Homo sapiens: one gene and its partners. The protein of the gene in region 1 interacts with the protein of each later gene in a pairwise test. Each region holds a gene or a part of one and is shown in the gene's direction. Other genes may lie near its edges. The genes, in order: SDR16C5, FUNDC2, HSFX1 and HSFX2.

Region 1 (8,808 bases):
AAATGAGCGGTAGCTCATTCTATGATTATTCAGGGGAAAAAAAATTTGTTAGAGGTGATAATGACCATGGGATAAATAGAAGAGCTAGAACAAACATAAAACAACACATCCTTTTGTCTTTTCGGCAAGAGATGAAATGAGGAGTGTCGGGCTTCATGCCCAGTTTTTCTGAAAAATGTAGTAAACAGGGAAATCCAGTCATGTGCCCAGTCCTATCACTGTCTTCCTTGAGTCTTGGCTTTCTGAAACTTTTGCATTTCTTTGGTATATAGTTACTTTCCCCAACAAAGTGACAGGGCACGTGTCCCCTTTCTCCTTCAACTCTTGGATTTATTATCAGTATGTATTATTCATCCTACTCTTTCACATGTTCGTTTACTACTTCTGTTCCAGCCTAACACTGCTCTCTTCCTGTCATTGAACAAATAAGTCTACCTTTACACTAATCATGTACTTCTCTGAGGATTTCACAATCTCCTTCTGCCAAATAATGCATTTTGGTTAAACATATATATTTGTGAAAGTATCATCTGCTGACTGTACTTACTCTACTGTTTTACCAAGTAATCCCCAAAGACAACATGTTCTTTAAACGAGTCTTTTAAAAGTAGGCATTTTTTTCATCTTTTTCTGTTTTTAATATAACAAAATATTGCACGCCATTTATAAAAAGTCAAACAATACAGAAATATATATCATAATGGAGGCGACTCTCCTTGCCCCTTACTCAATTCTGTGCCCCTCCCGAGGTAACTACTGCCAACGGTTTGGTGTGTAGCCTTCCAGATCCATTCTTCTGTGCATTTCCATCTGTTTTACACACATGTGAACACACATGTGCATGCACAATGCACAGTAATCATCAATTTAATTTCAGTGGAATAATTCTGTACTTTTTTTTCACTGACCACAGCCTGGAGATTTCTCCCTGCCACTAAATATATTTCTAACTTCATCCTTTTTTTCAGCTTCAGAGAATTCTATTACATGACTATATCGTGATTAATGGAATAGCTGTGCATTCAAGTAGCTTCTCATTTTTTACTATCACAATCTTCAATAAACATGGGTCAATTTTTTTTTTTTTTTTTTTTTTTGAGACAGAGTCTCACTCTGTCACCCAGGCTGGAGTGCGTGATCTCGGCTCAATGCAACCTCTGCCTACCAGGTTCAAGCGATTCTCCTGCCTCAGCCTCTTGAGTAGCTGAGACTACAGGTGCGTGCCACCACACCCAGCTAATTTTTTGTATTTTTAGTAGAGATGGAGTTTCACCATGTTAGCCAGGATGGTCTCGATCTCCTGACCTCATTATCCACCCACTTCGGCCTCCCAGAGTGCTGGAAGTGTCAATATTCTTATGTGATAGATTCCTAAATGTGAAATAGCAGTCAAAAGTTATGATAGCTACTGCCCAATTACTGTCCATAAAAGACTCAAAGACAAATATCCCCACATTGTTTGAGAATGTCTGTGTTCCCACACCCTTGCCAATCCTGAATTCTTTTTTTTTTTCTTTTTTCCCAAGATGGAGTCTTGCTCTGTTACCCAGGCTAGAGTACAATGGCGCGATCTCTGCTCACTGCAACCTCCACCTCCCGGGTTCAAGCAATTCTCCCTGCCTCAGACTAGTGAGTAGCTGGGATTACAAGCGCCCACCACCACCCCTGGCTAATTTTGGTATTTTTTAGTAGAGACGGGTTTTCACCATGTTAGCCAGGCTGGTCTTGAACTCCTGACTTCAGGTGATCCACCTGCCTTGGCCTCCCAAAGTGTTGGGATTACAGGCATGAGCCACCATGCACAGCCCCAATCCTAAATTCTTATCTGACTTTTTAATATGTGGATATTAATGAATGAAAAAAAGGTTATTCCTTTTCCAATTTCCTTTTCCTGAATATGAGTGAAATTTCGCATCTTTTTAGGCATTTTCAGTAATTTATATTTATTTGCCTATAAATTTCTTTATCAATTTTTCCCACTGTCTTATTTCAATCAGTTTATAGAAATGCTATATATTATGACAAATTATCAATGGTCAACTCTTTATGCAAAACTATTTTCTCCTAGTCTGTTGTTTATCATCTTACTTTGCTTATGATATTTCCTTGCCTAGTCCCAAATTTCAAAACAATTTTTCAATATTGTATTTCAATACCTTCAGAGTGTTGTTTTTTATATTAACACTCTTATTCCATCTGAGTGTCCCGTGTCCTATTTACACTCTGCGTTTGTTTACTGAATTGTGGTTACTCAGGCTTTCTGTTGGGAAGAATGACTCATTTTTGCAGTACCTTCCGTGTGTCATAGCTTAAAGTATCTTTTGCTCTGGTTTCTGGAAATAGGATCCATCTGCTTAATGAAGTCAACCCTCACTGGTAGCTCCTTTCTTTTTTCTAGCACTAATGTGTTTATTTGCATTTTTATATTTTCTCTTTTATTTCAATGGAATTTTGGAAGAAAATAGGATATGAATGCGTATGCTCACTGTGCTATCTGGAATGGAAGCATCTGTGTATGTGTGGCCACAGAAACATTTTTATTATGAGATAAAGATATACACATAATGGAAAATTTGGAAAATACAAAAAGATACAAAGAAATAAATTCAACCAACATTCCACTACTATATTACAAAAAGTGTTAAGATGTTGATGAACTCTCTTCCAGTGTTTCTAATGCATGTACATAAAATTTTCATAGAAATTAGAATCATAGCAAATATATTTAGTCTTGTACTGTGTTTTTTAAACTCATATTCTGTGAAGTGTACTTCATACCCTTGAAAAACATGATTTTATAAAGATGGCTGTAGAGTACTCCATCGGCACATACTTCTTAGGAATTAAAGATCAATTTATTTTGATTAATATACTTGTTTCCTAAAAAGGTACTACTTCACATGATTCAGTGGAGTGGAAAGTCTCTTTCCCATCCCTGACTCTCAGTGACCCAGTTTCCCTTCCTGAAAGGCCACAGACAATACCTGGGTATTTGGTAAAGATAAAGGTGGAATTGGGTCAGAGGATATATCCCTTTCTAATTCCTGAAACATATTTGTTTTCCAGAAATGTATAATTTATACCCCCATATGAAGGCATTCTTTTAAAAAAAAAAAAAAACTTTCAATTTGTAAGGTAAGAAATGTTTTCATATGCATCTCTTTGGCCCTAAGATCAAAGAAATTGAGAATAAGATTAAACCACTTTTTCATGTTTATTAGCCCATGACACATGTTCTATCATAAACTGTCCATTCCTAGCCTTTGCCAAAAGAGACCCTTTAGAAATCCTTTCCCAGCTTTCAGGATTATGGTCAGTCCTCTGAGTTTCCCCCACATCAAGTCAAAGCAGGACCCTTTCCAACCAGCAGGGCCTCTGGCTTCTTTCACTGCGTCACCGGTGCATCCCCCACTACTCACTCTCATCTTTTGTACTGATGAGATTTCTAATAATGCTCCAAATTTCTTTCTTGAGGTCCACCCAGGGCTTCTGACCAGAAAGAAGAGTGACAGCCTAGGATTCTGCTCAGAGAAGCCATGAAGATAATAGGAGGCTGGTGTTTCCCAGTGTCCACTCATCTGAACTCTTGCAGGCAGGCTGCACCATCAAGGGCCCATTACCCGACGTCTCTCTGCCTCAGTCCACTCTCACTCCCAGGTGCTGCTCACCTCCACACCTTAGCCCATTCTGGAAGGCCCTTTGAGTCCAACTGCCTCTCCTCCTGCAGGCTGGTTGTGGACTCTGGAAGCACCTGGGGTGCATGTCTATCACCCGCACTGTTTATGAATGTGTCTCCCTTCTCCCTCAGAAGCCCTGCAACTCCCCAGAGCCCCACACAGCAGTGTCGCTGTGTGGTGACGGCTGACTTGAAACCAATGCACGCACATTTACCCACTCACCTTCCCACACGCCTCGCATAGCTTGCCACAGCTCGCTGCTGCTGCCTAAAGCACACAAGTAACCTCTTAAGTACTGAAAAGACAGTCGAGGGTTTCCCCTGCACCTACTTTTCCAAGCTTATACGACCTGCCTGTTTCTTCTGTCACCCAAATAAAGAACAAATGTGCAGTTCCTCTACTCCAGACCTGTCCCAGATATGGGCTGGCTAAGGCTGCTCTTCGACCCCTCACCACTTTTCCTGTCCTACTCAGCCCCGGGATAAATTTCAAACCCAATCTCATCATGACTCCCCTGTTTTTCTTTCAACATCCCATAATTTATTGTCATTTCTGCCCCTCATTGCCCCCAGAAAAGTTCACCCTCTATTATTAGCATCTCAGTGGTGTCTTGTGCTTATATTAACTCTTTTATTGATTTATTAATGAATGTTTTTCCTTTTTTTTTTTCTTGACAGATATATCATCGCTGTTATCTTCTGGATCGCTGTACACCCAGATGCTTAATATATCTTGATTGGGTCAGAGTGCCTGGTGACTCTTACGCTAGCCTCATTTCTCGGCTTCATCTTGTTAGAACAAATTTCCTCGCCCTCTTCTCCTAGGCCGCCTGCCAGCGCCGCACCCACTCCTGCCCCTGCCTGCACCCCACCCACTTCCCGGGGACTTCCGAGCCCACGCCCACATCCTTTACCTCCAAGGGGCAAGGAAGCTGTTGACTTAAGATCCCATGTGGAGCAGTCAGATGCTGCTGGAGAACTCCCCGCACTGCAGGCTCCAGACACACGACCTGGCCCCTCCCCCGTGGACGCCTATACTGCTCTGTTCTCTAATTCCAGGGTTCCCAACCTCGGGGTTGTGCCTTGCAAATACCTGGGAAACTTTTCTAGCTAATGCCTAGGCCCCTACCAACCCAGAAATTCCCATCTAATAATCTAGGGTACAGCCTAGGCATTGAAACGTTAAGCCTAAGAGAAATCCGGCGCACGCATCCAGTTTCCACCACCGAATTTCCAGCTTCTTAAATCTGCAGGTCCAGAAAAAGAAGATGGGAGTGCTGCCCACGTCGCGCACTGGGGCTACGGCCGGCCCCACCCCTGGCGCTGCCGCGGCAGTCCCGCCCTTGGACTTGGGCGGCGCCTGGATAAACACCTGAACCTGACTGAGCTCCGAGCCAGGGACTCGGGTGCCTGGGGCAGACGAGGCCGGCTTCTCCGCGGACAGCTAGGGAGAGTGTCCTGGGTAAGTTGCCGAGGTCGTCGGTCCTGGGTGCTGGCTCCCGGAGGAGGTCGCGCTGGCGGGGGTCGGGCGAGGCCGCCCTTTGGGCTGGTTTCACGCTGGGTCGCTCGCAAGGGGGCGCGGGTCGCCGAGCCGCGGCAGGACCCACCCGCGAGCTGGTGAGAAAGCAGCTGCACCGGGTAGCGCACGGCTGAGCGTCCCAGAAGCCCGGGCTCCCGTGGCTACGGCTAACGCAGACCCCTCGCCCCCGGGGGTGAGCTGCCAGCCTCCCTCCCCACCCGGAGCAGAGGGCAGGATGCCTCCCCGGACCCTCTTCTTCGGTCCGTTCTGCCCAGGTTCCCTGCTCTCTGCTGCTCAGTGCATCCACCTTCCGGGTGGATATCAACCCCCATATCACCCCTTTCAACCCAAGCTGTGATTGTCAGTCTGTCTGCCCTCCCGTTTCGTCCGGGTGCCCTCACCAGAGCCGACTTGCTGCCGCGCACTGGTATGGGAAGCCGAGGGCGCCTGTTTGGATTGGGTAGGCCGCGAGATAGGGACACCTAGAAGACTTCTGCCAGATTAAATTGTATACGCTCCGTAACATTCTAGGAAAGTCTTTGCAGTAAAATGGAACCGTACATTCACTCTTGTTTGTAAGTATACTATAACCATATTTAATTGATATAGCCAGGGATTATTAATTCATATGCTTAACAGGACCAGTGGAAGTTCTAGCCATTAATTATTTTGCTGTCATTCTGTGCCTGGCACTGTTCTAGAAAGGCCTCCATGTTTTATGGCTGTGCCACATTATTATGGGGATTGAGGAGCAGAGGGGGAGACATGTAAGCTGGCAGGTGTTGAAATCCAAACAGCTCCTCTTGCACCCCCTCCCCAACCCCTTGCACCCCGCAGAGGACTTTGTGCAGGGCAATGCCTTTTTTTTTTTTTTTTTCTAATTTGTTCGAAGGTTTCACACAAGCTAGTAGTGACCACATAATGCTCCTTAAAACTTTACCTATATAAACTGGTTTAATTCTCACAGCTCCTCTGTGTGGTAAGTATTCCTATGCACTATTAGAAACTCCCTTTTTAGAGGAGGAAACTGAGGCACAAGAGATTAAATCATTTCTACCAAAGTTGCAGGGAAAATCAGTGATATATCTGGAATTCCAACCCAAACTTTAATCTCTAGACCTCATTGCCTGTGTGGGTACCCAGCAGGCACCCTAAACTTCAACTGGGGAAGGGAGGTAACTCAGGCTGACAAGCTCTTAGAAATCTAGTAAGCATCTGCCAAGACAGGGTTAAAAGATGGACATATTTTAGGTCTTGCATCAAGCCAACATTGAGACAGTGGAACACTGAAATCTAGAATGTCCTGACATTAAGAGCGTTCATGTCACCCAGGTCAATGTTGAGACTTCTGGCCACTGCTGAGGTGCTGGAGCCCTGTGATGGGAGAAGTAGACCTCTGTCCCTCTATGTGAATTCACATAGTGATATAAAAGGGAATGTGGTGGTCTGACCAACTACTCCTGGTGTGGATTTTCCAAAGTTGGCGACGCCCAGGCTGCTGTCTGAGAAGGGCGCCTAGGGTTTCCCATTACTGTGTGCACAGTCTGACCCTCATCCTTGCAGATCCACAGGTACAGGCTCCATGTATTTGATATGAGAGTCCTCTTTCAGGACACCTTTTCAAGTTCTGCAGTGCCTGAGAGGCCTGATCAATCATTCAAAAGTTACTCTGTGAATGTAAATCAGAGCAAAGATCACAGAGAGTTTGAGGTCTATTTCATCAAAGCATGGATGAAAACGTTCTTCATTTGACCAGAGCATCCATGTTCCTTAGAGCAAACATTCTTATTCTCTGGACAGCCCTGGACACACAGGTCAAACCTGCCTTAAAACAAACTATTTTGTCCCTCTGCCAGGAAAGCTACTGCTCAATATCCCTACCTCCCACCATCATCATTTGGATATCCACTCAAAGGGTCACTTTCCAGCAGACATCTGTTGCTTCCTCTCCCAAGCCCAATCTGAATCAGCTCTCCGATCATCCTCTCCATAGCACACTGCACTTTTCTTTATAACACTATGGCTTATAACGATCTGTTTATTTGTTGAATACGTCTCTTCAACTAGATTACTTGGCTCACCTGCACAGAGATTATGAGAGGCTGCCCATCCCCTCAGCCCCAGTGCCCAGATAGAACCAGCACAGGGTGGATACTCAATAAACATAACACATGAACCAATCTGGCCCTCACCAGCTAACCAGCACAGGGACCCTGAACAAGTCACATACATCTTCTCTTCGATCCTCAGTCTCATCTGTACAATAAGCCAGGAACAACAGCCTGGGTTGCATCGACTCTCGACATTTCCTAAGGGTGTGACCACATACCAAGTCCTCCTGTAGATGAATCTATCCACCCTTACTCATTAACCGCAACTAGGCTGACTTCAGCCAAACTGTGAAGACCTGCTCTTTTTTCATTACTCCCCTCCTGTCTCCTCACACCTGTGCCTTTGTCTGAGCCTCTCAATTAAACACCCCATTCAGAGAAGGCTCCCACCCCCAGCACAGTATGCTGTCTGCTAAATATGTCTTCTGTTCCCATCCTGAAGGAAATAAGACCTTCCCTTCTTTCTCAGCTAGTGGTTAGTAAAGCACACCTTATATATTCATTCACACTAAAGTGTGAGTAACTGGTAGCAGGATGTAAGCACTAAGCTCTGTATGAGTTTGTCAAGGGGAGGCCTTTTATTCATTCAGCAGACCTAGTGGATGCCTTCTTGGTGGGCAGCACTATGAATCTGAGAAATGTGATAACATCTGTAAAGCACTGACTATAAGCCAGGCATTGTGGTCATACGTGGAACATTCTCATTTCATCTGCAAAAACACCCTATGCCACGGGACCAATATAGATGAAGAGACCAAGGCCCAGTGTAAGGCCAAGAGAACCCCCGCCATGGGGTTCACAGGTAGGCAGAGGCAGTGCAGGGCAGGAGTCCAGGTCTGCCTCGCCTGTGACCTTTAATCACACAGAGTGGTAAGTGATATAGAGCTGTTGGTGCGGGGACCTCAGAGCCTAGGGAAGGGCTATCTGGTGCTGATTGCAAATCTGTCGGAAAAGGTCTAGAACATCTGGTTACTTCCTGTCAAATGCTTTCTACAAATAGGACTTTACATTTTCCTCTCAAATCTCAGATTTTAAATAGTAATGCAAAATTAACGAGAATGCAAATGAGAAAGCACAAACATCAAAGGAGAGAAACATAAAGCCAGAGAGGTAGTAATGATGTTATAAACATTGTGATGTGGTCAAGACTTTGAACATAAAATCAGCCAACAGGATTCATTATTATTATGAAGAAAGGCTAACTATGAGCAATAATGAACTTATTCTTTTGTGTTAAATTTGGGTGTGGTGGTTACAGTTCCTGGTTAACAAACATTTCTGTTGTGTACTGCACATAGCAGGCATGCAAATAACATGCTGAGCCTGGGGCCAAGTAAGAAAGCCGAATAAGTATAGTCCCTGTGGCTTCCTCCTCCCACTTTCTGAATACAGAGTCTGCTACCAGGAGAGCTGTTTAAATCACATATCTCAGTTACTTTCACTGTTTCAGAAAATAGGAGCTCCGTGGAGTAAACAACTCAGAGGAAATGGACAAATAAGTC
Region 2 (4,744 bases), on another chromosome or scaffold:
CAGAGACGGATCCAGGGGCACTTTCTGGCCGCTGCCTGCTCGGGCTCAACAGATGGAGTCCAATGTTTCAGTCTCCCCCAAGAATGTGTATCCTCATTGCTGACACGGGAGCTGGGTGCGGGGAGAGATGTGGTGGTGGGGACCCTTGCCTGAGCAGCCCATTGTCATGAGTGTTATTGCCATTGTGATAATATGTTAGCATGACTCTCCTCCCAAATGGCCGCTTGTTTGTTGCAATCTCCCGCCACTCAGCCTCCAGACATTCATTAACAGGACAGTGGGGTTCTTGACTCCCCTACCACTGGGGTGACAGTCCTTGCTACTGGATCTGGGCAGTTACTGTCTCATGGATGCTGGCAGAAGACGATTCAAGTTGGCGGACTAGATTCTACAAGGAATGATCTCTTGCATAATTCTAGCCAACATGCTCTTGGGGTGGGTGCTTCTGGTTTTGGAAAGCAAAGTTACTGTGTAGTTAACAACTATTGTGGTAAGAATAGTCTCTCCATCATTCTTTTGTTTCACGGTTGTCAGAAAGATGGGCATAACTAATGGTTGGGCTCTTATTTGGAACCTCTACTTTTGTACAGTTTGGGAATCTCTGCTTGAAAAGATGGTATACTGATGGATTTGAAATTTCTGAGTATCATCAATGTTTCATGATGATCTCAATTTCTTCTCAGAGGGAAGCTCACAGCCAGTTTTGGACCCCAGAGAAAAATGTGGCTGCTGCCCTCTACTCCCTCTACCAAATTATCAGCTTCATTTCTTTGTCATGAAATCTAGTATGATTTCTCAGAAATCAGGCCCAGAACTAAAATACATTTTCTGCCCAATTTTCTAAGAGGTCACACTAACATCTGAGTAATTGGGCAGAAAACCTATTTTAGTTCTGAGCCTGATTTTTCTAGAAGTCATATGGTATAGCTTATATTTCCGATGCTTGCATTCTTTTTAAGGGGTCATGAATCTTAATACTTTTTTTTTTAAAAGAAAAGTGTCGCACTTTTTCACATTTTTATAAAGCTTTAAAGTCAGTTTACTGACTTTTCAAAAGTGTCTACCTTTTTAAATTTTAAAATGGTAAGAAATGACATTCCTGAGAGCAGTGGCTTTCATCCTTGCTTGCACTTGGGAATCACCTGTGAAATTTTAAAAACTACTAATGCCTGGCTCTCATCCTAGAGATTCTGATTTCACTGGTCTGGAGTGCTGTTCAGGCATCCTGAGGTTTTAAAGTGTCTTAGCTTTTTCTAATGAGCAGCAGAGACTGAGAACCACTGAAGTACACAGTTGGAAGCTGGTGCTGAAAAAATTAAGAGTTTTGCTGTTAACTCCTTAAGAGGGCTTTAAAGCCTTTTATATTAAGTGCCATACAACTTCAGATGCCTTCTGAATACTGAACACAAGTGTAATATTATAGTTCATTAAATGTCTTAGGAATCGTGTGGAGTGAATGCAAGGAAAGGAGTGACAAGATATCACCCCACAAATGACTTACCCATTACGAAGGGAAAACTACCTTTCTAGCTAAAAGGTCTGTCAGTCACTAACCAAGTGATTAAACTTAGCATCACTAATAGCCAACTTAACAAAGTTTTTTTTTTTTTTTGGTTTCTAAAATGGGAGATCATAGTTTTCACCTTCCTAGAGTTCTTTGCTTAAGACTGAGATTCAGTGTTACTCTTGGTCCCTAACAATAAGAAGCACTCAGTAAATGTTAAGCCTTCTATGATGGCTATTTTATTTTTTTGTATGTCATAATAATACCTAAGAATAAGAAGAGTTAAATTAATGTCTTCAAATGGATTTGTTGACTTAAACTGACACAATCCTTTAAAAGAAGGAACTGATTTGAACCTTTCAAAACTGAAAGAAAGTCGTATACTGATACAGTTTGGAGCCACCGAATGTCATGTTGAACCGTATTCCCTAATGGAGGTGGATCCTGGTGAGAGGTGATTGGATCGTGGGGGCCATCCCCTCTTGGTACTTCACTCATGATAGTGAGTTCTCATGAGATCTGGCACTTCACCCCTCACTCTCTCTTGCTCCTGCTTTGGCCATGTGGAGTGCTCACTCCCCTTTTGCTTTCTGCCATGGCTGTAAGTTTCCTGAGGCGTCCCCAGAAGCCCATCAGATACCAGTGCCATGCTTCCTGTACAGCCCATGGAACTGTGAGCCAACTAAACCTCTTTTATTTATAAATTACCGAGTCTCAGGCACTTTTTATAGCAATGCAACAATGGACTAATACATATACTTTAGCATAAAAACATTTAAAAGAGTCTGAAACTGGAGTAGTTAACTCAGTAAAAATAACTTGGCAATAAAACACAGAAAAACAATCTATTTGATCATGTAGTGATTCCTAATGTAAATCCTAGTACAACTGTCAACTGATAATTTTAAATGTAATTTAGATTTGTAGATGGTGTAACATTAAAGTTGTATGATGTTTTATTGTGTTATTATTAACACAAGACGTCATTTAAATTTCATGGGGATTTAGCTCTGTCACTCTGGTTTGTGGACCAAACGTCTCTAAGGCAGCATTTCTTTAAGTCGCTCTGGAGAGCATTCACACACAGAGATGCTGTCTGCAAAACAGGTTCACTTAGGTTTTTTGAAAGCTCTGAAGTCTGACAGGAAATTAACCTGTGTACTTGTATGCAACCTAGCATTCCCCAAACTTACCTGACCAGAGAAGCCTTTTTTTTTTCTTCCGGTTACAGCAATTCCTAGAAACACTTTGAGTAATGCTGCTTTAAAGAAAACAGTTGGTCTCAAATAATCATGGTATTTTAACATCAGGGACCTAGCAGAAATTGTTCCTGCTTTTAGTCATCTTTTTCTTTTTTAGAGGACAGCCTTTGGTGGTTCAAGCATCCATTTGAGGAAAGCAAATGGCCTGTTGCATGCTGCCTCCTCCTACTTCATAAAGTGACTGACAGCTGTCAACAGGCTTCATTCAGCAGCTTTGTATTAATGTTGTCTGGATCCTCTGTAACAGGTTTTTATTATCAGGATATAAAGAATAGATAAACCAACTAAGTTTGAATTATCTTGCTGCCTACCTGACTTCCAATGAAAATTTTTTCTTCAGTTCCTTCATGATAAATTAAGGATCATTAAGCATTACAAGAATCATTTCTATGCCTTTCCTACCTGGTTAGTCGCTGCAGTGGGGATGCAAAAGCAGAAAGAAATGCTCTTACTGGCATCTGGAAAGACACTTTTTGCTCTGCATTTTTGGAAGTACAAAAGGTAATGAGTTAGTTTAAAGGAAACTTTGAATTAGTTTAGCATGTAATCTATAAAAGGTATCAAAATTGGCTCACGCCTGTAATCCCAGCACTTTGGGAGGCCGAGGCGGGCAGATCACGAGGTCAGGAGTTCAAGACCAGCCTGACCAACATGGTGAAACCCCGTCTACTAAGAACACAAAAATTAGCCAGGCGTGGTGGTGCATGCCTATAATCCCAGCTACTTGGGAGGCTGAGGCAGAATTGCTTGAACCCGGCAGGCAGAGGTTGCGGTGGGCCGAGATCGCACCATTGCACTGTAGCCTGGATGACAGAGTGAGACTCCATCTCAAAAAAAAAAAAAAAAAAAAAAAAAAGGGCGTCAAAATTGTGATGCTGGAAGTGAGTCCTTTCACCTAACATACCTCATATGACTTAAATTTGATGAATGGCACTAGTGGCTTGAACTTCAAGAGAATTCATTAATACCCTATATCTAATAGTCTTAAAATACATTTAGTACAAAACCCAAATTTTTCTCTTAAACAGGTTTATTTTAGCAGCTCAGTATATTACATTCTACATATTTGTCTTTTAATGTGTTTATATTTCTGCCTGTTCTGCATAGATGGCATATTCATTAACTTTTGTAGCTGACTTTTTCATTTGCTATTTGCTGCTACCTGGCCTGAAGAGTCAGGAGGATAAAAAAAATTCATTTGGTGGAAACATGGAGCAGCACTTCAGAAGAACTTTACTTTGATGCAGACTTCCGTGTTAGGTTTTCTTCCTCTTCTTTTTCAAATCCTGAACAGACGACAGATCTTCCCTTGGGATACTGAGCACAACACTTACGCAGTTCTTGGATGACAGCCTGACACTTTGATTCCATGTAGCTGTTGGCTGAAAAACATACAGGCAGACTCTAGTCATGATCTCATAGGACTAAGGTACAGGGAGGTTTAGATCAGTGCTTCCCACCCCTTTTCACTTTCAGTACCTATGGAACTGGAAGAAAGAAGATATACCAAAGTCCACTGAATTCTTTCTAATTTAGAGACCTGTCGACAGGTTCGTTAGGGAAAGTATGATTTACAAAGTGGTTGAAAGCTATTTTAATATATAATTTCCTTTAAGGTTAATAGCATGTATGCACCTTTTTCTAGGACATTGGTTTTTAACATCATTTTTATTACTGGTCACTAATTTGATGAATTAGGAAAATGCACATACACCACACATTATTTTGCATACAGTTTAAGCTGATTGTTGGACCTCCCCTACTAAGGCTGTGCATCAGGAATTGGCAAACTGCAGCCTTAGGGTCAAATTCAGCCGGTTTTTACAGCTGGGAGCTAAAAATGGATTTTAATTTTTAAAGGGTTGTAAACACACAACACATACACAATATATACAACAAAGGCCTTTGGCCTCCAAAGCCTAAAATATTACTTGTTTGGCCTTTTTCATAAAACATTTGCAGATCCCTACTATACATA
Region 3 (8,626 bases), on another chromosome or scaffold:
GGAGTTTGCCATAAAACTGCTGGCACTGGGAACTTTTCAAGTGGATAGGCTATTGCCGAGCTCTGAAGAGGGACATAAAAGCTCATTTCGAGCTTTCCCCAGGGATAGGTGGTTTCCTGCCTTTTTCTGGCGGTGCTGATGTTCCCTCTTGTGGGAGCTCACGCGGGGGTGGGGTGGTGGGGAGGAACTGCCTAATGAAGTCTGGCTTCCGCCTCTGCCCATTTTCGGTGCTGGCATCAACCGGGACTATGTCTCTTTCTTTAGATTCTGCTGGTTCACAAACTGGATGGCCACAACGCCTTCTCCAGCATCCCGATCTTTGTCCCCCTTTGGCTCTCGTTGATCACGCTGATGGCAACCACATTTGGACAGAAGGGAGGAAACCACTGTATGTACTCAGCATTTCAGAAGTCCTTGGTGTGTGTCTGGGGGGGGACCAGGGAGTGGGGGGGGGGCGGATAGAAGTCTAGGAAGGGATGAGTCCCCGAGGGCCCCAATTTAGAAGCTTGTGTGGGAAAGTGAGGGCTGAGGAAATTCTGGGACCTTCTAAGGGAAGGGCATGCCGTAACTCTGGTGTTCTGCTGGCCTGCACCGGGACTTTTCTCGCAGTGCACGCTGCCATTTGAGGTAGAACCAGACACGGCAGGCAACCTCTCAGAGATCCCGTTCCCTCCTCTGCAAAATGGGGATCAAGACAGATTCTTCCCAGGCCCGGGAGGGTTTGATGGAAAATCCACATCTCCCACCCAAACCTGGGATTCATCCTAGGTCCCTGTTGGCCTCTCTGCCTCCCCCATATCCTTGCTGCCATCACCCGAGTCTTGCCTGTCTTGCCTTGCTAACACTCTATTCCCCTCCACCTGCTTGCTGAGGCAGACACTTCCAAAACGATCTCTGCAGAGGGTGCCTTCCTGGCAAGGCTGTGGGCTCCATGGCACGGAAGCCCAGAGCATTGCCCTTCGGAAAGCCAGTGGGTTTGGGGGCAGGGCCTCACTGCAGCCCAGCAGCCCGGGCTGTGCTTGCTGTTTGTGCCTCTGCCCCCTACCCCGCACCCGGGAGCAGGGAGGGCTTGCACCGAGCTGACACTCCAGTAGCCTACAGAGAGGAGTAGTGGGACTGGGAAAGTGGCTTTAAGGTGGCTCCATGAGTTCAGGCCCCCTCCTGGCCAGGACCCGTGCATGACTACCGCCCTCACGGATTCCAGAGGGTGACAGAAATCTTGTTCTTGGGTGGCACTGTCATCCATGAGTTTATCCTGGCTGGAGAAGATTAGCGGAAGACACCGTAGTCTGCGCACCACAGATATTTTGAGACTCACTGGAGCAGTAGTTCTCAAACTTGGGCATCCAGCAGAATCCCAAAAGGGCCAGGAAAAGGGGACCGCTGGAGCCCACCCTAGCCCGACTCAGTTTCTGGAGGTCTGGGCTGGGGCCCGAGAATGGCATCCCTAACTAGGCCCCGTGGACGCTGTCCCTGCCGGTCCGGGAACCCCACTCCAAGCACCACAGAGCTAGCATTTGCACTTCTTCCCCATTTTGGGTACTCAAGCCCTGTTCAGGCTTTGTGACTCAGGAGTCTGGATAAAGTATGTTATGACATTGTAGGAGTGAAACTTCTTGTTACGGAAAGAAAGTTAACAGGAAGGTCAGTTGAGCCTCGTGTGTGAAATAAAAAATTCTTATTTTTCAGGGTGGTTTGGTATCCGCAAAGATTTCTGTCAGTTTCTGCTTGAAATCTTCCCATTTCTACGAGAATATGGAAACATTTCCTATGATCTCCATCACGAAGATAATGAAGAAACCGAAGAGACCCCAGTTCCGGAGCCCCCTAAAATCGCACCCATGTTTCGAAAGAAGGCCAGGGTGGTCATTGCCCAGAGCCCTGGGAAGTATGTGCTCCCACCTCCCAAATTAAATATCGAAATGCCAGATTAGATGCCACTTCCGGGGACAGAGCTTAAGTGGACTGGGACGCACTCTCTCCGCCTTCCTCTGCCCCCTCGTTCACCCCGCAGACCAGAACCAGTACTGGAGCTGGGTCTCCAGGTACGTCCATCTCATGCCTTGTTTGCATCCAGCGCCTATCAGCCACTCACCACGACGGGACGCGGAAGTGGCAGGTGACGGGGGTGTGTGCCAGCAGATGCGGATGCCAGGAAGAGTGTGAGAACAGGGGTGGGATTACCGTCTGTCTGGGAGGGGCTCCAGGTACCCCTCTTCCCCGTCAGACCCACTGGGAGATGGCTGCTTGCCAGGCCCCCAGAAGGAACATCTGTCTATACGGTGCTGAAATCCCAATCAAAAGTATTGTTTAGAAATGTATTTCTCCACAGGGCTGACCTCCTGCAGCTCGCTGAGCACTCCCAGGTCCTCAGCACTCCCAGGTCGTGGCTGGGGCAGTCAGTAGGAACTGTAACTATGTCTCTGATGCACCACGTGTTTAGACACAGCACAGTCCTTTTTTCTGTTCCTACTGTGGAAGTAGTTTCTCTTTGGGCATGCTGACAGCAGTTTTTCATAGCCTCACGGATGAGCCCTTTCTACGGGAGTGACTCCATGCTTGTATACAGAGTATTTATACAAATGTTTTAGCATCTTCATATGCGGTGTTAACCCCTAGTTCTGTACAGCATATTCTGTTCAAGTATTTTTTTACAAGCTTGTGCTGTAGGCACATGCCTTCTGCTGCAGAAGTGGACGCCCGTGGCACACTCCCCCCCCCCCCCCCGTGGGGTGCCACGCCTTCATGGGACATTGCCACTTCTGCCCTGGAACTCGTGCAGGTACGTAGTAGCTGCTACTGCCAGAACGGCAACACCAAGCAAGAGATGGTCCATGCTTTTCTGACGTTCTCAGAATAGTGGCTAGCTTCAAACCTGACAAGCGCTGCTTGAAGCCGGAACACTAGAGAATGTTGCTGAGAGCAGAAACGGCCACGCGGGTCACGACTATGCGTGGGAAAGTCTCAAGCTTCCCTCCTGCCAGCAACAAGAAGGCTTTGGAGTAGGCATGATGTTTTCACGTGTGCGTGCCGTTTCTCCAAGCACTGCAGGTTCCACCGTGTGTCAGAGGCTGCAAGTTTAACATCCTCCTGCCTGAAAACAAATAGGTCCTTTGCTGAAAAGAGGGTAAAAAAAGAGCTTTGATCGTCTCAGCCAGGAGAAGAGGGTGGTGTTTTCACGCGGGCAACTGCTCGCCGGCCTACATGGGGTTAATTCAAGTCTGCTGCGAGCACGACTCCGCCCTTGGCACTGGCCTCCAGCAAGCCCTGTTCTCTTTGGGGTACAGGGGAACGGGATGGTTTAGACTTTCCTGCTCAGTGTGTAAAAAATGTAGCTAAAGCCACTATTTTTGCTCTCCTTAAGCTGTTCAATAAACCGGTTCCTCATTTTACACGTGCATGATGTGTATCTTCTTTGCTGGATGGGCCAGGAAACTGGAGTGGTCCTCTCAGCCAGCCTCAGAGGAAAGAAATCTCTAGCTGGCACAGGCAGCCAGTGAGTGAGGCTGGCGGCTGCAGGGGCACAGCCTTTAGAATGAGTCCTTCAGTGCACAGGTCCCAGGGTATACGGGGTAGTGGGAGGAAGGAGGGGACGCCTCGCAGATGCCACTGTTGGCTGGGCTACACCTTGCCACACTTGTTACTGCTTAGGAGGCTTTCTGGAGTGTTCCTTGGGTGCTACGACAATCTGCAGCAGACACTGTCCTTTCACCGCTCCTGGTCCTCGTTTGCTCCCCAGTGATGTCAACAGCTGAGGACTGCTCACGCTGCAACAAAAGGCTCTGCAGTCGCTGTCTAGCTTGCCCTAGTCGTCTCTAGAGTTCTGCCTGAACTGAAACTCAAGTGGGGTTCAGCTCATGACTTGTGGCAATTGACCAGGAAATTCACCAGTTGCTGTGGCTGGAAGGATTTTCAGTCCTGTGGGTTGTAACCAGAGGCCACAGGTGGATTCTGCCTTAGGCTCATGAGATTTCCGACTTGCTGTTGAAGAAAATGCCTTGTGAAGTGACAACAGTAGCTCTGACCCAACTGCCGGTGCCTCGCTAGTTCCTATACGTCCCACTGGATCCTCACAGCCCCGGGAAGCAGGTGCTACTACTCTTATCCCCGGGAGGAGACAGAGGCCGAGAGAGGTTAAGTGACGTGCCCAAGTCACACAGCTCGGCAGCGGCCGGGTTGAGCATCAGCAGTCTGTTTGCAGACCCCTCACTGTCACCCCCTGAGCCAGTGCGCCTTGGGCCCTGCGGTCAGGATGTCTCAAGCGTGGAGGCATCACCGGTTCGTGGCAGTCTCTGGAAGGTCACTGAGCTCTGTGCCCAGAATCGAGTCGGGGGAGTCTGTGCAGAGGTGGCCCTGTGTGTGGGGACAGTGTGTGACACAGACACTGCTTTGGATGGACACCTCTCCCGTGACCTCCTAGCATCCAATCCCAAAGGAACAACTGTTGCAGAGATGGACCGCTGGACACAAACCCACGTGCGTTTCTCTGGAGACACTGGCCAAGGAAAACAAAACATGCTCGAAGGCCAACAGCTGCATGCCCCACCGCGATGTGACCGCAGACACCCGGGGTGTAGAAGGGTCTCTGCCTGGTGGGGGGACACGTGCAGGCCGAGGAGAGGCAGGAAGGAGGCTGCCTCCGACTCCCCACTGGACTGCATGGCGACGGCGTGTGGTGGGGCAGTCAGCTAAGCCATTTGCCTAAGGGGCTGTCGGGCATCTGCGTGCTGGGGACCGACAGTGTGGGTGTGTTAGGAGGATCTGTATGGAGCACATTGCTGCCTCTGGCTAGGACAGGGTGGAAAGGGTGGCGTGGCTACAGCCTGACCCATGGGCACCGTCCTACCCTTTGTTCTGTGCTTCCGAGTGTCAGTCATGTGCTGGGGTCTGTGGGCCCATGACTCAGACGGTGAGCTCTGACCTTCCTGAGCCAGGGCTTTGCTGTAGTTGTGCCTGGCTCAGGAGCTCTAGGACAAGGGGACCGCTCCAGGTCTGCATCTACGGTGTGGCAGGGCCCCTCGGCACTCTTGTGCACTAGTGTCATCTTTCCCATTGAAATGACTGTGAGGACCAGAATGTGCACATGCAGATGGGCAGCTACTTGTCTGCCTTGGCCCTTTATTACACAACTTGCTGGGGGTGGAGATGCCACCCCCCGGCAGTCAGAGCCCCTTTATGATGTCATGGGGCTGGTTACATGACTGCCAAGGGGTGCTGCTGGCCACACTGCACTAGCAAGTTTGCCAGATGGAGGACAAGCGATCATTGAGTATGGCTCGCTGTGAAGAAAGAAATTCGAGAGGACAGGATCATGGCTTGGAAAGGGTGCCTTTCCCTCCCCAGTTGCAGTCAGAGACCTACCTTCACCCAGCAGATCCTTCCCCTGCCTGGGACGACCCGGGGTCCACTGGGAGCCCTAACTTGAGGCTGCTGACAGAAGAAATCGCTTTCCAACCTCTGGCCGAGGAAGCTTCGTTCAGAAGGCCGCACCCTGACGGTGACGTCCCGCCCCAGGGAGAAGATAATCTCCTCTCCCTCCCCTTTCCACAGAAACTGTGGAGACTGGTCAGCAGCAACCAGTTTTCGTCCATCTGGTGGGATGACAGTGGGGCTTGTAGAGTGATCAATCAAAAACTCTTTGAAAAGGAGATTCTCAAAAGGGACGTCGCACACAAAGTGTTTGCCACAACTTCGATAAAGAGCTTCTTCCGCCAGCTAAACTTGTATGGCTTCCGAAAACGGCGTCAATGCACTTTCAGGACCTTCACCCGCATTTTCTCCGCAAAAAGGCTGGTCTCCATCTTGAATAAGGTAATGAACGACAAGCCTCTGGAGGGGTTAAGTCGGTGGGCTCTGGGGCCTGGTCGGGTGGAAGTCCCAGGACTGCCTCCTGGGAAGTGGGCGACCTCAGGCAGGGTGTGGGGCCATCGCTGTGGGCCTGTGTCCCCCTCTGGGTGGAGGTGACATGAACTAAGAGTGAATGTGGGGAGAGGGCTGAGGATGGTGCGGGCCCCTCTCGAGTGTGTAAAATATCACAGGTGCCAAGTAGCCGTATCTGCGTGTCGTCCTCCCCGGGGCCAGCCATGTCATCTGGCGGTTGCTGTGTCCCCCTGACTCCACAGCACATTACCCTGTGAGGTGAGCAGGCCAGGGGAGTCTGGTATTTGTACCACTGTCACCCTAGCTGGTGTCTGGAGAGGTGCTCAAGTGGAAGCACTGAAGGGCGCCTGGCGCAGGAGGTGCAGATGCTCCTGCTGCCCTTGGTAGGTGGGCCCCTGGTGTGGAAGAGCCAGTACCCAGGGCCTCCAACCCAGCCGGGGTGCATTCTGTTGCCAGCTGACACTGCATGGGGGAGGCCCAGAATCTTCTTCCCTCCTGGTCTGCAACTTCAAAGACCCTTTCCGCCGGCCATGGACACCCTAATCTGCCATTTTGAGGCTTTTTCCAAGACGGAAAGGCCCGCCACAACTTGGTAAACCTTGACGATGTGAACGCGAGTCCCCAGCTTCCTTTGGGGACTGGGACCTTTTCCAGAAAGGCCTCCTGGGCCAGTAGAGTTCTCTTGCACAGGGGCGTAGATGGTTGGTAGTTGTAGTCCATCCTTGTGACTTGCAGTTTCCTTTTGTTTATTTAAACTTTGACTTATAGTTAGAGTTCTACTGCCATCCTTACTTTCAAAGAGACTCCCCTCACCTCCTCGTGAGGATGAAGAGAAGAGTGGGTGTCAAGTCTGCACCAAGACATCAGGAGGAGGACAAGCCAGAAGCTGCTGGATCCTGTCTGGCACCAGCAGACACTGAGCAACAAGATCACACGTCTCCGAATGAGAATGACCAGGTCACACCGCAACACCGGGAACCGGCCGGTCCCAACACCCAAATCAGGAGTGGCTCTGCTCCACCAGCAACTCCTGTGATGGTGCCTGATTCCGCCGTGGCGAGTGACAACAGTCCAGTGACCCAGCCGGCCGGCGAGTGGTCAGAGGGCAGCCAGGCTCACGTCACTCCGGTGGCCGCTGTCCCTGGGCCTGCAGCGCTGCCCTTCCTCTATGTCCCTGGATCTCCCACTCAGATGAATTCTTACGGGCCTGTGGTGGCCCTTCCCACAGCGTCCCGTAGTACCCTTGCCATGGACACCACAGGACTTCCTGCACCTGGCATGCTGCCCTTTTGCCATCTCTGGGTACCGGTGACCCTAGTGGCTGCTGGGGCTGCACAGCCTGCTGCCTCCATGGTCATGTTCCCCCATCTCCCAGCTCTGCACCACCATTGCCCCCACAGCCACCGCACGTCACAGTACATGCCAGCTAGCGATGGGCCCCAGGCGTACCCAGACTACGCAGACCAGAGCACATAGAGGGCAGCATTTGGGCAGAATATGTGCTGGTCAATAAATGTGTCAGAAAATGAGTAATTTTCTGACTGCACAAAAAAGTCTTCATGGTCTCCATCCTTTTTCTTTCTTTGCAGTCCAGTACCCCCCTCCGACATCTTTGGCTTGCATGATAGAGACTTCAGCCTAACACGCCTCCCTGGAAAAGTGCCCAGGAGATACTCGAGCAGGTGCTGGGTTTTAGGAAGCCCCTCAGACATCCCGCCTCTACTCATTAAAAATTACCTGGAGCTGGCCGGGCGCAGTGGCTCATGCCTGTAATCCCAGCACTTTGGGAGGCCGAGGCGGGTGGATCACGAGCTCGGGAGATCGAGACTGTCCTGACTAACACGGTGAAACCCCGTCTGTACTAAAAATACAAAAAATTAGCCGGGCGTGGCGGCGGGCACCTGTAGTCCCAGCTACTCGGGAGGCTGAGGCAGGAGAATGGCATGAACCCGGGAGGCGGAGCGTGCAGCAAGCCGAGATCGCGCCACTGCACTCCAGCCTGGGCGACAGAGCAGGACTCCGTCTAAAAAAAAAAAAAAAAAAAAATTACCTGGAGTTGCTCGCTGAGTGCTAATTGTGCTGCTAGCATTGCCGGCCTAGGGTTCACAATGACTCTGTGTTACTGGCCATTCCTTGTCATGGCGGTGCCTTTATATAACAGGATCTTCACTTTACATACAGATGAGATCACGTCTGGCTTTGTCATTGGGTTAAAAAGTGCCCTTGATAGTTGTGGAGGTGACACATACTACCAAGGAGTCCTACGGGTTTGCAGTTTAGAGGGTGCTCATTAGTGTCTGGTGGACAGGATTTATGTTTGGCTTTTATGTCTGTACTGGATCTGGTGGGGTTTTTTACTTCCTTCCTTGATTCCCCCACTATGCCCCCACTTTTTCTTTCTTGTTTCCCTTCCTTCCTACTTTCCTTTCCTCTCCTTTTTTCTCTCTCTCTCTCTTTGCTTCCTTCTTTCCTTCCTTCCTTCCATCTCTCTCTCTCTCTGTGCTTGCTTGCTTCCTTCCTTCCTTCCTTCCTTCCTTCCTTCCTTCCTTCCTTCCTTCCTTCCGTGTCTCTCTCTCTCTCTCTTTCCCTCCCTTCCTTCCTTCTCCTTTCTTTTGGAGTCAAAAATTAATTTAAAAGATGTCATGTCATGTTTTAACTTAGGAAGCAGCCTTTTCTGCTCACTTGGGGTGTTCATCTTAGAACACATGCTATCATCGACGAACTTCTTTGACTGATCAGAGGAAAT
Region 4 (8,732 bases), on another chromosome or scaffold:
CTGCCATTTGAGGTAGAACCAGACACGGCAGGCAACCTCTCAGAGATCCCGTTCCCTCCTCTGCAAAATGGGGATCAAGACAGATTCTTCCCAGGCCCGGGAGGGTTTGATGGAAAATCCACATCTCCCACCCAAACCTGGGATTCATCCTAGGTCCCTGTTGGCCGCTCTGCCTCCCCCATATCCTTGCTGCCATCACCCGAGTCTTGCCTGTCTTGCCTTGCTAACACTCTATTCCCCTCCACCTGCTTGCTGAGGCAGACACTTCCAAAACGATCTCTGCAGAGGGTGCCTTCCTGGCAAGGCTGTGGGCTCCATGGCACGGAAGCCCAGAGCATTGCCCTTCGGAAAGCCAGTGGGTTTGGGGGCAGGGCCTCACTGCAGCCCAGCAGCCCGGGCTGTGCTTGCTGTTTGTGCCTCTGCCCCCTACCCCGCACCCGGGAGCAGGGAGGGCTTGCACCGAGCTGACACTCCAGTAGCCTACAGAGAGGAGTAGTGGGACTGGGAAAGTGGCTTTAAGGTGGCTCCATGAGTTCAGGCCCCCTCCTGGCCAACCCGTGCATGACTACCGCCCTCACGGATTCCAGAGGGTGACAGAAATCTTGTTCTTGGGTGGCACTGTCATCCATGAGTTTATCCTGGCTGGAGAAGATTAGCGGAAGACACCGTAGTCTGCGCACCACAGATATTTTGAGACTCACTGGAGCAGTAGTTCTCAAACTTGGGCATCCAGCAGAATCCCAAAAGGGCCAGGAAAAGGGGACCGCTGGAGCCCACCCTAGCCCGACTCAGTTTCTGGAGGTCTGGGCTGGGGCCCGAGAATGGCATCCCTAACTAGGCCCCGTGGACGCTGTCCCTGCCGGTCCGGGAACCCCACTCCAAGCACCACAGAGCTAGCATTTGCACTTCTTCCCCATTTTGGGTACTCAAGCCCTGTTCAGGCTTTGTGACTCAGGAGTCTGGATAAAGTATGTTATGACATTGTAGGAGTGAAACTTCTTGTTACGGAAAGAAAGTTAACAGGAAGGTCAGTTGAGCCTCGTGTGTGAAATAAAAAATTCTTATTTTTCAGGGTGGTTTGGTATCCGCAAAGATTTCTGTCAGTTTCTGCTTGAAATCTTCCCATTTCTACGAGAATATGGAAACATTTCCTATGATCTCCATCACGAAGATAATGAAGAAACCGAAGAGACCCCAGTTCCGGAGCCCCCTAAAATCGCACCCATGTTTCGAAAGAAGGCCAGGGTGGTCATTACCCAGAGCCCTGGGAAGTATGTGCTCCCACCTCCCAAATTAAATATCGAAATGCCAGATTAGATGCCACTTCCGGGGACAGAGCTTAAGTGGACTGGGACGCACTCTCTCCGCCTTCCTCTGCCCCCTCGTTCACCCCGCAGACCAGAACCAGTACTGGAGCTGGGTCTCCAGGTACGTCCATCTCATGCCTTGTTTGCATCCAGCGCCTATCAGCCACTCACCACGACGGGACGCGGAAGTGGCAGGTGACGGGGGTGTGTGCCAGCAGATGCGGATGCCAGGAAGAGTGTGAGAACAGGGGTGGGATTACCGTCTGTCTGGGAGGGGCTCCAGGTACCCCTCTTCCCCGTCAGACCCACTGGGAGATGGCTGCTTGCCAGGCCCCCAGAAGGAACATCTGTCTATACGGTGCTGAAATCCCAATCAAAAGTATTGTTTAGAAATGTATTTCTCCACAGGGCTGACCTCCTGCAGCTCGCTGAGCACTCCCAGGTCCTCAGCACTCCCAGGTCGTGGCTGGGGCAGTCAGTAGGAACTGTAACTATGTCTCTGATGCACCACGTGTTTAGACACAGCACAGTCCTTTTTTCTGTTCCTACTGTGGAAGTAGTTTCTCTTTGGGCATGCTGACAGCAGTTTTTCATAGCCTCACGGATGAGCCCTTTCTACGGGAGTGACTCCATGCTTGTATACAGAGTATTTATACAAATGTTTTAGCATCTTCATATGCGGTGTTAACCCCTAGTTCTGTACAGCATATTCTGTTCAAGTATTTTTTTACAAGCTTGTGCTGTAGGCACATGCCTTCTGCTGCAGAAGTGGACGCCCGTGGCACACTCCCCCCCCCCCCGTGGGGTGCCACGCCTTCATGGGACATTGCCACTTCTGCCCTGGAACTCGTGCAGGTACGTAGTAGCTGCTACTGCCACAACGGCAACACCAAGCAAGAGATGGTCCATGCTTTTCTGACGTTCTCAGAATAGTGGCTAGCTTCAAACCTGACAAGCGCTGCTTGAAGCCGGAACACTAGAGAATGTTGCTGAGAGCAGAAACGGCCACGCGGGTCACGACTATGCGTGGGAAAGTCTCAAGCTTCCCTCCTGCCAGCAACAAGAAGGCTTTGGAGTAGGCATGATGTTTTCACGTGTGCGTGCCGTTTCTCCAAGCACTGCAGGTTCCACCGTGTGTCAGAGGCTGCAAGTTTAACATCCTCCTGCCTGAAAACAAATAGGTCCTTTGCTGAAAAGAGGGTAAAAAAAGAGCTTTGATCTTCTCAGCCAGGAGAAGAGGGTGGTGTTTTCACGCGGGCAACTGCTCGCCGGCCTACATGGGGTTAATTCAAGTCTGCTGCGAGCACGACTCCGCCCTTGGCACTGGCCTCCAGCAAGCCCTGTTCTCTTTGGGGTACAGGGGAACGGGATGGTTTAGACTTTCCTGCTCAGTGTGTAAAAAATGTAGCTAAAGCCACTATTTTTGCTCTCCTTAAGCTGTTCAATAAACCGGTTCCTCATTTTACACGTGCATGATGTGTATCTTCTTTGCTGGATGGGCCAGGAAACTGGAGTGGTCCTCTCAGCCAGCCTCAGAGGAAAGAAATCTCTAGCTGGCACAGGCAGCCAGTGAGTGAGGCTGGCGGCTGCAGGGGCACAGCCTTTAGAATGAGTCCTTCAGTGCACAGGTCCCAGGGTATACGGGGTAGTGGGAGGAAGGAGGGGACGCCTCGCAGATGCCACTGTTGGCTGGGCTACACCTTGCCACACTTGTTACTGCTTAGGAGGCTTTCTGGAGTGTTCCTTGGGTGCTACGACAATCTGCAGCAGACACTGTCCTTTCACCGCTCCTGGTCCTCGTTTGCTCCCCAGTGATGTCAACAGCTGAGGACTGCTCACGCTGCAACAAAAGGCTCTGCAGTCGCTGTCTAGCTTGCCCTAGTCGTCTCTAGAGTTCTGCCTGAACTGAAACTCAAGTGGGGTTCAGCTCATGACTTGTGGCAATTGACCAGGAAATTCACCAGTTGCTGTGGCTGGAAGGATTTTCAGTCCTGTGGGTTGTAACCAGAGGCCACAGGTGGATTCTGCCTTAGGCTCATGAGATTTCCGACTTGCTGTTGAAGAAAATGCCTTGTGAAGTGACAACAGTAGCTCTGACCCAACTGCCGGTGCCTCGCTAGTTCCTATACGTCCCACTGGATCCTCACAGCCCCGGGAAGCAGGTGCTACTACTCTTATCCCCGGGAGGAGACAGAGGCCGAGAGAGGTTAAGTGACGTGCCCAAGTCACACAGCTCGGCAGCGGCCGGGTTGAGCATCAGCAGTCTGTTTGCAGACCCCTCACTGTCACCCCCTGAGCCAGTGCGCCTTGGGCCCTGCGGTCAGGATGTCTCAAGCGTGGAGGCATCACCGGTTCGTGGCAGTCTCTGGAAGGTCACTGAGCTCTGTGCCCAGAATCGAGTCGGGGGAGTCTGTGCAGAGGTGGCCCTGTGTGTGGGGACAGTGTGTGACACAGACACTGCTTTGGATGGACACCTCTCCCGTGACCTCCTAGCATCCAATCCCAAAGGAACAACTGTTGCAGAGATGGACCGCTGGACACAAACCCACGTGCGTTTCTCTGGAGACACTGGCCAAGGAAAACAAAACATGCTCGAAGGCCAACAGCTGCATGCCCCACCGCGATGTGACCGCAGACACCCGGGGTGTAGAAGGGTCTCTGCCTGGTGGGGGGACACGTGCAGGCCGAGGAGAGGCAGGAAGGAGGCTGCCTCCGACTCCCCACTGGACTGCATGGCGACGGCGTGTGGTGGGGCAGTCAGCTAAGCCATTTGCCTAAGGGGCTGTCGGGCATCTGCGTGCTGGGGACCGACAGTGTGGGTGTGTTAGGAGGATCTGTATGGAGCACATTGCTGCCTCTGGCTAGGACAGGGTGGAAAGGGTGGCGTGGCTACAGCCTGACCCATGGGCACCGTCCTACCCTTTGTTCTGTGCTTCCGAGTGTCAGTCATGTGCTGGGGTCTGTGGGCCCATGACTCAGACGGTGAGCTCTGACCTTCCTGAGCCAGGGCTTTGCTGTAGTTGTGCCTGGCTCAGGAGCTCTAGGACAAGGGGACCGCTCCAGGTCTGCATCTACGGTGTGGCAGGGCCCCTCGGCACTCTTGTGCACTAGTGTCATCTTTCCCATTGAAATGACTGTGAGGACCAGAATGTGCACATGCAGATGGGCAGCTACTTGTCTGCCTTGGCCCTTTATTACACAACTTGCTGGGGGTGGAGATGCCACCCCCCGGCAGTCAGAGCCCCTTTATGATGTCATGGGGCTGGTTACATGACTGCCAAGGGGTGCTGCTGGCCACACTGCACTAGCAAGTTTGCCAGATGGAGGACAAGCGATCATTGAGTATGGCTCGCTGTGAAGAAAGAAATTCGAGGGGACAGGATCATGGCTTGGAAAGGGTGCCTTTCCCTCCCCAGTTGCAGTCAGAGACCTACCTTCACCCAGCAGATCCTTCCCCTGCCTGGGACGACCCGGGGTCCACTGGGAGCCCTAACTTGAGGCTGCTGACAGAAGAAATCGCTTTCCAACCTCTGGCCGAGGAAGCTTCGTTCAGAAGGCCGCACCCTGACGGTGACGTCCCGCCCCAGGGAGAAGATAATCTCCTCTCCCTCCCCTTTCCACAGAAACTGTGGAGACTGGTCAGCAGCAACCAGTTTTCGTCCATCTGGTGGGATGACAGTGGGGCTTGTAGAGTGATCAATCAAAAACTCTTTGAAAAGGAGATTCTCAAAAGGGACGTCGCACACAAAGTGTTTGCCACAACTTCGATAAAGAGCTTCTTCCGCCAGCTAAACTTGTATGGCTTCCGAAAACGGCGTCAATGCACTTTCAGGACCTTCACCCGCATTTTCTCCGCAAAAAGGCTGGTCTCCATCTTGAATAAGGTAATGAACGACAAGCCTCTGGAGGGGTTAAGTCGGTGGGCTCTGGGGCCTGGTCGGGTGGAAGTCCCAGGACTGCCTCCTGGGAAGTGGGCGACCTCAGGCAGGGTGTGGGGCCATCGCTGTGGGCCTGTGTCCCCCTCTGGGTGGAGGTGACATGAACTAAGAGTGAATGTGGGGAGAGGGCTGAGGATGGTGCGGGCCCCTCTCGAGTGTGTAAAATATCACAGGTGCCAAGTAGCCGTATCTGCGTGTCGTCCTCCCCGGGGCCAGCCATGTCATCTGGCGGTTGCTGTGTCCCCCTGACTCCACAGCACATTACCCTGTGAGGTGAGCAGGCCAGGGGAGTCTGGTATTTGTACCACTGTCACCCTAGCTGGTGTCTGGAGAGGTGCTCAAGTGGAAGCACTGAAGGGCGCCTGGCGCAGGAGGTGCAGATGCTCCTGCTGCCCTTGGTAGGTGGGCCCCTGGTGTGGAAGAGCCAGTACCCAGGGCCTCCAACCCAGCCGGGGTGCATTCTGTTGCCAGCTGACACTGCATGGGGGAGGCCCAGAATCTTCTTCCCTCCTGGTCTGCAACTTCAAAGACCCTTTCCGCCGGCCATGGACACCCTAATCTGCCATTTTGAGGCTTTTTCCAAGACGGAAAGGCCCGCCACAACTTGGTAAACCTTGACGATGTGAACGCGAGTCCCCAGCTTCCTTTGGGGACTGGGACCTTTTCCAGAAAGGCCTCCTGGGCCAGTAGAGTTCTCTTGCACAGGGGCGTAGATGGTTGGTAGTTGTAGTCCATCCTTGTGACTTGCAGTTTCCTTTTGTTTATTTAAACTTTGACTTATAGTTAGAGTTCTACTGCCATCCTTACTTTCAAAGAGACTCCCCTCACCTCCTCGTGAGGATGAAGAGAAGAGTGGGTGTCAAGTCTGCACCAAGACATCAGGAGGAGGACAAGCCAGAAGCTGCTGGATCCTGTCTGGCACCAGCAGACACTGAGCAACAAGATCACACGTCTCCGAATGAGAATGACCAGGTCACACCGCAACACCGGGAACCGGCCGGTCCCAACACCCAAATCAGGAGTGGCTCTGCTCCACCAGCAACTCCTGTGATGGTGCCTGATTCCGCCGTGGCGAGTGACAACAGTCCAGTGACCCAGCCGGCCGGCGAGTGGTCAGAGGGCAGCCAGGCTCACGTCACTCCGGTGGCCGCTGTCCCTGGGCCTGCAGCGCTGCCCTTCCTCTATGTCCCTGGATCTCCCACTCAGATGAATTCTTACGGGCCTGTGGTGGCCCTTCCCACAGCGTCCCGTAGTACCCTTGCCATGGACACCACAGGACTTCCTGCACCTGGCATGCTGCCCTTTTGCCATCTCTGGGTACCGGTGACCCTAGTGGCTGCTGGGGCTGCACAGCCTGCTGCCTCCATGGTCATGTTCCCCCATCTCCCAGCTCTGCACCACCATTGCCCCCACAGCCACCGCACGTCACAGTACATGCCAGCTAGCGATGGGCCCCAGGCGTACCCAGACTACGCAGACCAGAGCACATAGAGGGCAGCATTTGGGCAGAATATGTGCTGGTCAATAAATGTGTCAGAAAATGAGTAATTTTCTGACTGCACAAAAAAGTCTTCATGGTCTCCATCCTTTTTCTTTCTTTGCAGTCCAGTACCCCCCTCCGACATCTTTGGCTTGCATGATAGAGACTTCAGCCTAACACGCCTCCCTGGAAAAGTGCCCAGGAGATACTCGAGCAGGTGCTGGGTTTTAGGAAGCCCCTCAGACATCCCGCCTCTACTCATTAAAAATTACCTGGAGCTGGCCGGGCGCAGTGGCTCATGCCTGTAATCCCAGCACTTTGGGAGGCCGAGGCGGGTGGATCACGAGCTCGGGAGATCGAGACTGTCCTGACTAACACGGTGAAACCCCGTCTGTACTAAAAATACAAAAAATTAGCCGGGCGTGGCGGCGGGCACCTGTAGTCCCAGCTACTCGGGAGGCTGAGGCAGGAGAATGGCATGAACCCGGGAGGCGGAGCGTGCAGCAAGCCGAGATCGCGCCACTGCACTCCAGCCTGGGCGACAGAGCAGGACTCCGTCTAAAAAAAAAAAAAAAAAAAAAAAAATTACCTGGAGTTGCTCGCTGAGTGCTAATTGTGCTGCTAGCATTGCCGGCCTAGGGTTCACAATGACTCTGTGTTACTGGCCATTCCTTGTCATGGCGGTGCCTTTATATAACAGGATCTTCACTTTACATACAGATGAGATCACGTCTGGCTTTGTCATTGGGTTAAAAAGTGCCCTTGATAGTTGTGGAGGTGACACATACTACCAAGGAGTCCTACGGGTTTGCAGTTTAGAGGGTGCTCATTAGTGTCTGGTGGACAGGATTTATGTTTGGCTTTTATGTCTGTACTGGATCTGGTGGGGTTTTTTACTTCCTTCCTTGATTCCCCCACTATGCCCCCACTTTTTCTTTCTTGTTTCCCTTCCTTCCTACTTTCCTTTCCTCTCCTTTTTTCTCTCTCTCTCTCTTTGCTTCCTTCTTTCCTTCCTTCCTTCCATCTCTCTCTCTCTCTGTGCTTGCTTGCTTCCTTCCTTCCTTCCTTCCTTCCTTCCTTCCTTCCTTCCGTGTCTCTCTCTCTCTCTCTTTCCCTCCCTTCCTTCCTTCTCCTTTCTTTTGGAGTCAAAAATTAATTTAAAAGATGTCATGTCATGTTTTAACTTAGGAAGCAGCCTTTTCTGCTCACTTGGGGTGTTCATCTTAGAACACATGCTATCATCGACGAACTTCTTTGACTGATCAGAGGAAATAGATTCAAGTTCTTACCGTAGACACAACTGGGCACAGACATCAAAAGAGCTCTGAAATCAGGGCGTGCAGAGAGCCCCAACACCCACACACCAGAACCCAGAGGTATCCCTGCCTGTGATTTTTAATTTGACAGTAGGTGGCAGAGTCCTGGGAGACGTGGGAAGAGGCCATAAGAGAATGCAGACATGGGAATGGATTAATCCAGAGTCCAGCCATGGTCTGCAGGTGGATCTCCCTGTCTCGGCCTGCTCACTTACAAATGGGTGCTCATTTACAAATCGGTGTGAATCACATTTCATCATTTGTGAGCTCCTTAGTTTCCAAGAAGTACAGTTTTCTCATGTGTTTCTTGGACTTTATGCATATGCCTCCAGAGTTTGAATCATGCAAAGATGCTGCCACTTAAAAACCTCTTTCCTACAAACTTACACCCCTCCGATCGTGGTTTTCCTGTGAATCTCAGCTGGGCACGATGGCTGACGCCTGTCATCCCAGCACTTTGGGAGACTGAGGCAGGTGGATCACGAGGTCAGGAGTTCAAGACCAGCCTGGCCAAGATGGTGAAATCCTGTCTCTACTAAAAATACAAAAAATAGCCGGGCACGTTGGCAGGCACCTGTAATCCCAGCTACTTGGGAGGCTGAGGCAGGAGAATCGCTTGAACTCAGGGGGCAGAGGTTGCAGTGAGTCGAGATCACGCCACTGCACTCCAGGCTGGGAGACAGAGTGAGAC

What was found.
Region 2: the proteins of SDR16C5 (region 1) and FUNDC2 interact in binary tests that used the Homo sapiens proteins (3 or more experiments, as listed by UniProt).
Region 3: the proteins of SDR16C5 (region 1) and HSFX1 interact in binary tests that used the Homo sapiens proteins (3 or more experiments, as listed by UniProt).
Region 4: the proteins of SDR16C5 (region 1) and HSFX2 interact in binary tests that used the Homo sapiens proteins (3 or more experiments, as listed by UniProt).

Annotation. Positions count from the first base shown.
Region 1 is NC_000008.11:56,316,389-56,325,196, reverse strand, and holds the start of SDR16C5 (epidermal retinol dehydrogenase 2), read left to right. Parts: upstream 1-5,021; 5' UTR 5,022-5,138; intron 5,139-8,808. UniProt on the Homo sapiens protein: Oxidoreductase with strong preference for NAD. Active in both the oxidative and reductive directions. Oxidizes all-trans-retinol in all-trans-retinaldehyde.
Region 2 is NC_000023.11:155,057,844-155,062,587, forward strand, and holds the end of FUNDC2 (FUN14 domain-containing protein 2), read left to right. Parts: 3' UTR 1-2,461; downstream 2,462-4,744. Other genes in the region: CMC4 (cx9C motif-containing protein 4), read right to left, coding at 4,000-4,148. UniProt on the Homo sapiens protein: Binds directly and specifically 1,2-Diacyl-sn-glycero-3-phospho-(1'-myo-inositol-3',4',5'-bisphosphate) (PIP3) leading to the recruitment of PIP3 to mitochondria and may play a role in the regulation of the platelet activation via AKT/GSK3B/cGMP signaling pathways.
Region 3 is NC_000023.11:149,769,435-149,778,060, forward strand, and holds HSFX1 (heat shock transcription factor, X-linked), read left to right. Parts: upstream 1-4,633; 5' UTR 4,634-5,247; coding exon 5,248-5,811; intron 5,812-6,648; coding exon 6,649-7,356; 3' UTR 7,357-7,433; downstream 7,434-8,626.
Region 4 is NC_000023.11:149,590,596-149,599,327, reverse strand, and holds HSFX2 (heat shock transcription factor, X-linked), read left to right. Parts: upstream 1-4,013; 5' UTR 4,014-4,627; coding exon 4,628-5,191; intron 5,192-6,028; coding exon 6,029-6,736; 3' UTR 6,737-6,816; downstream 6,817-8,732. Other genes in the region: TMEM185A (transmembrane protein 185A), read left to right, coding at 1,073-1,317.